Linked DNA regions of Homo sapiens: region 1 is linked to region 2. The links come from fine-mapping of genetic effects on gene expression. Tissue or cell type: monocytes after R848. Region 2 holds a variant in brackets; the other region holds the start of a gene. All regions are shown on one strand. Distances are from middle to middle.

The links. PIP is the estimated chance that this variant, and not a neighbour inherited with it, causes the effect.
Region 1: it holds the start of MMD, and the variant in region 2 is fine-mapped to the expression of MMD in monocytes after R848 (Quach 2016, PIP 0.95). The same link has a PIP of 0.9 or more in monocytes after Pam3CSK4.

Annotation. Positions count from the first base shown.
Region 1 is chr17:55,419,977-55,423,976 of GRCh38, reverse strand. MMD (monocyte to macrophage differentiation associated) reads left to right here and starts at 2,142. Exons shown (of 7, transcript NM_012329.3): 1 at 2,142-2,307. The coding sequence starts at 2,282. RefSeq lists a silencer at 1,742-2,201.
Region 2 is chr17:55,442,700-55,447,219 of GRCh38, reverse strand. No RefSeq gene overlaps it. Among named protein-coding and RNA genes, the nearest start is that of MMD, 23 kb to the right of the region's middle. The variant G/A (reference allele first, on the strand shown) is at 2,149.

The DNA.
Region 1 (4,000 bases), 23 kb after region 2:
TACAGGTGCCTACCACAACACCTGGCTAATTTTGTTGTTGTTGTTGTTAGAGATGAACTCTTGCTTTGGTGCTCAGGCTAGTTTCAATCTCCAGGCTTCAAGCGATCCTCCCACCTAGACCTCCCGAAGTGTTGGGATTACAGGTGCAAACCACTGTGCCTGGCCCTTTAAAAAAAAAAAAAAAAAGACTTTTTTTTTTCCAGAGAAGTTTTAGGATCACTCAAAAATTGAGAGTAAAGTACAGGGATTTCCCACACATACATAGCCTCTCCTGTTATCAAAATCCCCCAACAGTGTGGTACATCTGTTACAATTGAGCTTCCTTGTTTTATTTTTTAACCCTTCTTATGTTATTACACATGGCTATTTTTCATCTATCTTTATTAGCTATCTCCTTTGTTACCTTCCCCTCCCGCACTGATGTTTTAGCCCAGTGGCCCAACATAGCTGATAAGAAGCAGACTTTCATTCCAGGTTCATTTTCCCGATTTAGTGTTGAGGGTGCGGGTAGATGAAGTTTTGTTTTGTTTGTTTTGTTTTAGAGAAGTGTATTGCTTTAAAACAGGGAGAGATAGTCTGACGTACTGAAAGGAGGTGGGTCTTTAAAGTTAGCGAAAGGTAGGTAGGAGCCTTACTTTTGCCTTTGGCAAGTTTATTGACCACTATAAGCCTCAGCCTTATCTGTAAAATAAGTTGGATAATGCCCATCTGGAGGAGCTCTTGGGAAGATTGAAGCATGGAAAGCACCTCTCTGGAAGGTTCAAGGAAAGGGAACTAGAATTATGGGTGACAGAATTCCCTGGCTTTCCAATGCTTTACTGTAGGTCGAATGAGCACTCCTAGCAGGCTGGCCTCATGCCACTTCAGAGTCTCTAGCCTGCAGGCTGGGGGCTGGGTATGGACACGATACCTGGAAGGGAACACATATAACTTCCATCAGTGATCCTGGAAAGGCTCGACAAATCACCCATTCATTCATTCTGTGTGTATGTGTGTGTGTGTGAGAGAGAGAGAGAGAGACAGAGTCTCACTCTGTCACCCAGGCTGGAATGCAGTGGTGCAATCTCGGCTCACTGCAACCTCTATCTCCCAAGTTCAAGTGATTCTCCCATCTCAGCCCCCCGAGTAGCTGGGATTACAGGAGCCCGCCACCACTCCCGGCTAATTTTTGTATTTTTAGTAGAGACAAGGTTTCACCAAGTTGGCCAGGCTGGTCTCGAACTCCTGACCTCAGGTGATCCGCCCACCTTGGCTTCCCAAAGTGCTGGGATTACAGGCATGAACCACAGCACCTGGCCCATTCATTCATTTTTATTTGAACTTCTCTTCCAGGAAGCCCTCTGAGTTTAGGTTTAGCGACAGGACCCTGATTCAAGTCAACTCGTTTATTTGAAAGCTGCCTGGATAAAAATAAAATAAAATAAAAAATAAACTGGAGGATAACATAAAAGGATCCTTGCAGAGGATTCCTCCTTTTGTGGATCTCACTGAATCTCAGAGTTAGAAGACGCTCAGAGATCTCAACTCCCTCAAGGGTCAGACAAGGACAGGTTTTTCATTCTGCCCTGGATCCTCTCACAATAGCCTCGCGGGAGCTGGCCCTCAAAATGATGAAGGAATAAATGAAAGGAGGGATGGAGAAATTAATGATGAAGAAAAAATGAATGAGGTAGGGCTGCTTGTTTGCTGCTATTTTCTTCACAATGCTTTTAAGATTTCCTGGTCCATCTCCTCCTTCACCACTTCTCTCCCTCCCTCGATCTCTTCTCCAACTTGTCTCTTACAGAAGGGCGCCGCGTTCCCGCGCTCCTCCCCTTCCCCTCGCCCCGCCCCTCCCCAGCGAGGCCCCGCCTCGCTGCCCGAGCCCGGCGGGAATGAATGGCAGCGTAGCCGCCGCGCCGCTCGGGGTGCCGATTGGCTGACCGGCGCGCTGACGCGCCGGCGACCGCGGGTGCACGCAGGCGAACAGAGCCGGCGGGGGCGGAGCCGGGCTCCGGGGCGGGGCGCAGGAGCCCCGGGGCGGAGGAGCCGGGGAGGCGGGAGGCGGGAGGCGGGAGGTGTTGGGGCCGTTGAAGCGGCCTCCCTCCCGCCCCCAGCCGCCCGGTCTGGCCCCAGCCCTGTCCCGACCCCCGGCCTGGCCCACTCCGACCCTACCCGGCCGAAGGGTTCCGCTGGACACGCAGGCGGCCTCCGGAGCAGCCCAAGCCCATGAGGGCCGCGCGCCCGGCCGCCGGTGCTGACGAGACGGAGCTCCTGGCCCCCGAGGAGGAGCAGAGGATCAATGCGGTTCAAGAATCGATTCCAGCGGTGAGAGGGATGGCGTCCCGGTCCCGCTGCCCGTGTCAGAAGCGGGTTCCCAAATCCCGCCGTTAAGCGCACGGCTCCCGGCTCCTCACCTGGATTCATCCTGGGTGGATCCCGCACCTTGGCCAGGGATCAGTTCCCTGGGGATTCCCCACCCTGCTGTCCCTGGGCGATCCCCTTCCTCCAAGGATGGGAGCTCCTGCCTCACCCGGGTCTCCCCTCGCGATCTGCGGACCTCAGATGGATTCCCGGCCCCGGGACTCCAAGCCTGTCCTCCTTCCCGGGGATCCCTTTGCTCCTGGGGCTCACCCTCCCGACCCCCATACAGGCTGGGCTCTGGCTCTCTCTGGGAACCCGAACCCCAGCCCCGGGCACCGCCCCCGAGTCCTCCGACCTGGCTTTGGCCTCCATCCCTTTACCTCCAGGGTGGGGGTCTCCCGGGGCGCGCGGAACGGGGTGGCGCCCTGCGGAGAGATTTGTCGTAAAGCGGGGTGCTAGGCATTTTGGGTGCTTTGTGAACGGCCCTAGCAACAGGGAAACTGAGGCACGCTCCGCCAGCTTAGCCCTGCCTGGCCGTGTAGGGGCCTTGCTGGTTCTCCAGCTGAACGTCCCAGGGCGGTGCTATTTTTGGGCTCTGCGAAGGGGCATGTTAGCTTTCGGGTGGCGAGACCTGCTGTGGAGGCGCCGGTGTTAGGAAACGAGGAGGAGGAACCGTGGAGGCGCCACCGGAAGGCTGGCCGACTGCTCATTCACTGTAGAGCTGGTGGAAATGCCGGGCTGGGGGGCGCCGTGGCCTTACTCCCCTCTGGGGCTCCACCGTCTAACAATGGATGGAGGTTAGCCCATGACTCTGAGAGGAACTCCGGGCTTTTCTTTTCTGTTTAAGTGGGTGAAAGTTCACCTCTCCAGGGCATATGGTAACTGCATCCCTTTGTGTGAATTCCCGGACCTTCACCACCAGCATGTTTGCTGGGGGTGCAGTGACAGGGGAAATTTTAAGAAATGCATGAAATCTTCCAAGAAGGTTGTTGAGTTTTTAGACACTACCTTTTATTTCAGAATTTTAAAGTACACATTTTTTTTTTCTTTCCAATCTCCATGCCCTCACTGCCCTCTCACCCATCTCATTCCTCCCCCAGTCCCAAAGGGTAAAGGAGGCAACAAATGCACAGAAGAGTTGCCATGGTCTGGGCCACCAGGAAGGGGATCAGCTTGAAGACTTGGATTGACTTCTGAATATATTGCTTATCAGTCAGGGTGTTGAATGCTTGGCACTGTTCCCCCAGTGGAACTTCATACCGGTGTGTCTAAGGGCAAAATGGAACCGTAGTGTTCTGACTTTAGAACCTGATGTCAGAAATGAAGACCGGAGGGGCTTTTAGAGAGAATGTAACATGCACTCCAGTCATGATCAGTGAAGCCCTGTGCATGCGGTTTGATTTGGTTTTACTTCTCTACACGTCTGTGCTCTTCCTGTTTTCAGAGAACAGTGGCAATATTCTGTGAAATTGCCCCTTCCTTGTTTGATTAAGAGTTTGTCATTCTTACCTATACCTTTGGATCCTCTAAAAAGAAAAAAAACAAACAAACCCTGTTCAATTATTTGTTGCACAAACGTTAAAACTGTTAAAACAACAACAACAACAACTTCATTTAGGATGCTACCCTCTCAGCTTATTGAACTGACTTTTTAATT
Region 2 (4,520 bases):
TAGTGATAATACTGATCTCCAGACAAAGCAAAAACCTCCTATGAAGAAACCTTAGCTTCTCATGTCTACCCTGAGCTAATTTCCTGACCTGAGGTTGTTTTTCAGATGACAACTGGATGGGTGGAAAGAATGTTAACACATCACTCATTGAATATTATCTAGCCACATCCTCGTAAGTCCCTTCTGTAGATGGCCTTATCTGCTGTTTTATCCTGTGGATCTAACTCTGTTTGAACTTTGAGAATAATTAAAGAACTAAAAGAAAAATAAATAAAGCTCTGGAAGCTTACAAATAACAGCAATAACGAGAGTAAATAGAGTGATTCCCTTCAGCCAGTGTCATGGAATTTTCCAGGTCACTAGACTGTAGTGTGTAAGCTCACCATCCTTGTCTCCCATTCCTGGGTATTTGGCACAATACCTGTCCAATAGCCATATTTGGCAATGTTTTAATGAATTGAATTACAATTTGAAACTTTAACCCCAAACCTGATAGGAGAGACACTCCTTCTTTCCAGTCTCGGTACTGAATAATCTGGTCTCCAACAGAAATCACTGATCTGAGATTTTCTTGTGGTTGTTGTTTCCCTGTCTATCACCATTACATACAGAGACTAACCGTCCTTTTTCTTACCATGTCCTGGGGATCTTTATCAAAAGACCACTTAAGAAAGTTTAAGTACTGCAACCTTTCTTGGTAATAATAACAGCTAATCTTTACAGAGTGTGTACTAGTGCCAGGCAGGGCTGTTAAGACATTATATTAGCAACTCATTTAATCTCCACAGCTCTATGAGATAGTCAGTAATATTCTTCTCACTTCAGTGATGAAGAAACTGAAAAGCTTGCCCTGGATCAGACAGCAGTTGAAGCAAGCTGTCATTCCTAGTCACTTTGCCTTGCTACTCAAAATATTCCATTATATAATGGAGATTTCTCAAGCAGAGAACATGAGACCATGTCAAGAGCAATTTTTTTTTTTTTTTTTTTGAGACAGAGTCTCATTCTGTTGCCCAGGCTGGAGTCCAGTGGTGCAATCTTGGCTCACTGCAACTTCTGCCTTCTGAGTTCAAGCAATTCTTCTGCTTCAGCCTCCCAAGTAGCTGGAATTACAAGTGCACGCCATCACGCCTGCTAATTTTTGTATTTTTTAGTAGAGATGAGGTTTTGCCATGTTGGCCGGGCTGATCTCGAACTCCTGACCTCAGGTGATCCACCTGCCTCGGCCTCCCAAAGTGCTGGGATTAGAGGCATCAGCCACCGCGCCCGGCCCCAAGACCAATTCTTGACAAGCCTGCAGTGAATTACTTCATTTCCAAGAAATGCCAAAAACAGACCTGATGCAAGCTTATAATCAAAAACCCCTACCTGAATTCTAGATTATTTAGTGCTTTCGTGGTTCACACAATTCAAGCCTTCCCTTTATTACTTCTTAAATATTCATTAATGCAGTTACTGCTATTGCTGAAACTCCACCTTTTAGGAAGTTTTATAATAATAAAATGATGTCATTCCTACCAGAATATATCTCAGTTTTTGATTGAGGGGTCAGTTCATTTTGTTTTGATGGTAGGAAGGGGAAGCAGTCAAGTGGTCTGAGTATATCTAGACATTTGTTCAATCCTCTACAATTAACGACTGTGGGGCCTAAGAGACATAATTTTTACCTCTCTGGGCCCTTCTCTTGTGAAATTAAGAGTTTCACAAAATTATAAGATCTTTTCCAACTTAGACTTGCTGTAACCAGCACTCAAAATAATCGGTTTCACAACCAATCTGTTCTATTTTATTCAATTATGAATTTTTTAAAGAAAGTCTCTCAAGGCTGGGCAAATCACTTTCCTTCTAAAGTTTTATATGGTCTTACTTTAAAAGTATCCCCCATAGCTGCTCCCTGCCTTCCTTCCACCCTAGGAGTCTGTTCATCTGGTAACCAAGTGCTGAGACCCCTTGTGATCTGAGGCAGGACGTTCAGGGTTGGAGCAGGGGGACATTTGGGGAAACTTTAAAGGGTGAGTCATCCCTCAGGCCAGAAATGGTCAGGATTGGCATGCTAAGTTCAAGTCTCAACCTTCACTTCCTGAATTTCATTTTCCACCAAGAGTAGGAAATACACTCTGTAAATCTTCAACTACCTACATGTTAGCA[G/A]AAGTGAGATTGGTGAGGGGGGTGCACAAGAATTCTGCTTAAATCTGTTCAGTCTCCAAAATCATACCCAACAAAGAGTCTTTCCATCCTAAGATTAGCAAGTGACCAGGCCAGCACCTTTCCGTGGTTAAGAGGCAGGAGAATAGGGTCTGGAGATGGAGAACTTAAGGCCAATTCGTGTTGAATGAAGGAAAAACACCAAGGTTTGGGGGCAGGGAATCTGAGGCCAATTTGTGCTGACTTTCTAAAAGAGAAAACACAAAGGTCTGGGGGCAGGGAGTCTAAGGTCAATCCATGCTGACTTCCCAAAGGTGGATCAAAAGGAAAACACCTGGGTCTGGGGGCAGGGACCCTAAGGCTAATTAATGCAAACTTCATAAAGCTAAACCAAAAGGTAAAACCCCATCTCCCCAAGCCCCAGTAGCAAAGGGTCAAAGGTTACTCTCCCTACAACCCTCCTTCTTCCACCACGTCTCAGACGTAAAGGGAGAGTGCCTTGGATTGGCCTCAGGCCAAGCAGGGACAATCCCTTCATCTGCACAGAGAACCAATTCACCTCAGCCTTTAATTAGCCACGGACCAAATCCTTCATCCAGATAAGGGGTAATGGATAAGAACCTCAAAAGGCACACTTAAAACCCAGAAAACTTTGTAACCAGGCCCTTGAGCCGCTTGCTCCGGCCCACCCCCACCCTGTGGAGTGCTTTCTCGCTTTAATAAATTCCTGTTTTTGCCTCTTTGTTCCTGTGTCATCTTCGTTACTTTGCTTTGCATTTTGTCCAGTTCTTTGTTCAAAACGCCAAGAACCTGGACATCGTACACTCAAGGCCATCCTTCTGGTAACAGAGTTGACATGGATTCTAATCCTCTACCAGAATTGTTGAAACTGAGCCCTTGGTTTGATTTCCACAAGTTCCGGGCAGGCCTCGATTACCCTACATTTCAGGTGGAAGTTTGCCTGGAGGCAAATTGCGGTGCAGGCGACCCGCAGACCTGGGTAATAAGCCCAGCCGCAGAGCAGAAGGCTGTACTCCCATCTGCCTGCCCACCCTCTGCCCGTCCTCAGCATTTTCTCGCTAAAGAAAAGGTTTTTAGCAAAAGTAACTTTGCATTGTGATTGATTTTTCATCTTTATTTTACAGACAAACTAACCTAAAATAAAACACTAAAAAATATTCCCAATGGAGGCATCTCCAACCTTCTTTAGAGGGGATTTAAAGTTGCCAGTATTGTTTGTTGTCATTGTAAGTTTTTAAATTATATACAGTATACATGTCAACTTCAAGATGTAGCACTAAAACCAGAGCCTCTGGTGCAGAGGGAGTCCCTGACAACCCCCATCCAGAACATCAGCTATGGGAAATGGGGACCTGGCCATGGCAAAGCTTGGATGGGGATGTGGAAAGGCCTCCTTATACCAGCATGATAGTGCAAGGCTTGCTCAGAGGCTAACCCGCTTCTCTATCCCCATCCTCCAACCAGGACATCCTGCACTGGTTATTTCTAAATCAGGACCAAAGGCAACAAAGTGTAAACTCTACATTCCATTCCTTATGTAAGAAAGCCCTGTGAAAGTTTCCTTCCTGGCAAGAGAGAAAGTGGAGGAGCGTCAAGGAGTTGTCAGACTCCTTAAGGACTGCACATTTTAAAGGAGAATTATCCCATCTTCAATTTTCCCATGGAAAGAGCCTTCAGAAGGAGACTGATCAGGGCCATGCATCATGTCCCAATGCATCATCAGCTGCAACAAAGCAATTCTGTTTTAAATGAGGTTGGGAAGTAATGCACATTAATATCTCTCTTGCAGAGTCACGCTGTGTGTTAGCATGTTAAGGGTTCTGAGAAGAACTACTGTAAGACAACTTGTTTATGTTTAACGCAAGATTTCCAAAAGCCTTTTGACAGTCTTTGTTCTCTCTTTTATGTAACACCTATTAACATCTGTTCTGAGGAATACACATTGGGAAATGCTGGTGTAATGGAAAATCAGAAAACCTTTGAAGTCAGAAAACCAAGGTTGGAATCACCGCTTGATCCCTTGCTTGCTGTGGGGCCTTAGGAAATCGTCTTAACCTCCCTGAGTCTCTGTTTTGTCATCTTCAGAATTAAGCTAATAACTCCAACCTCATAAGGCTACTGTGAGGATGAAATAAGCAAGCTTATTGCTTGGCATCTGATAAATGGTAACTTAGTATTAACAAAAGTGACACCTTATGGAGTGGAGGTTGTAAGGCACTTCCCAGATCACGCTGCTGGAATAAAGGAAGGATTTGTTTCCCAAGCTGCTGGGAATGCTGCATGGGAAGACAGCCCTCAGCTCTCAGTCCTCTTCAGGAATTGTCTTGGCTAAAGAGAGCCAATCCGGGCCAAAG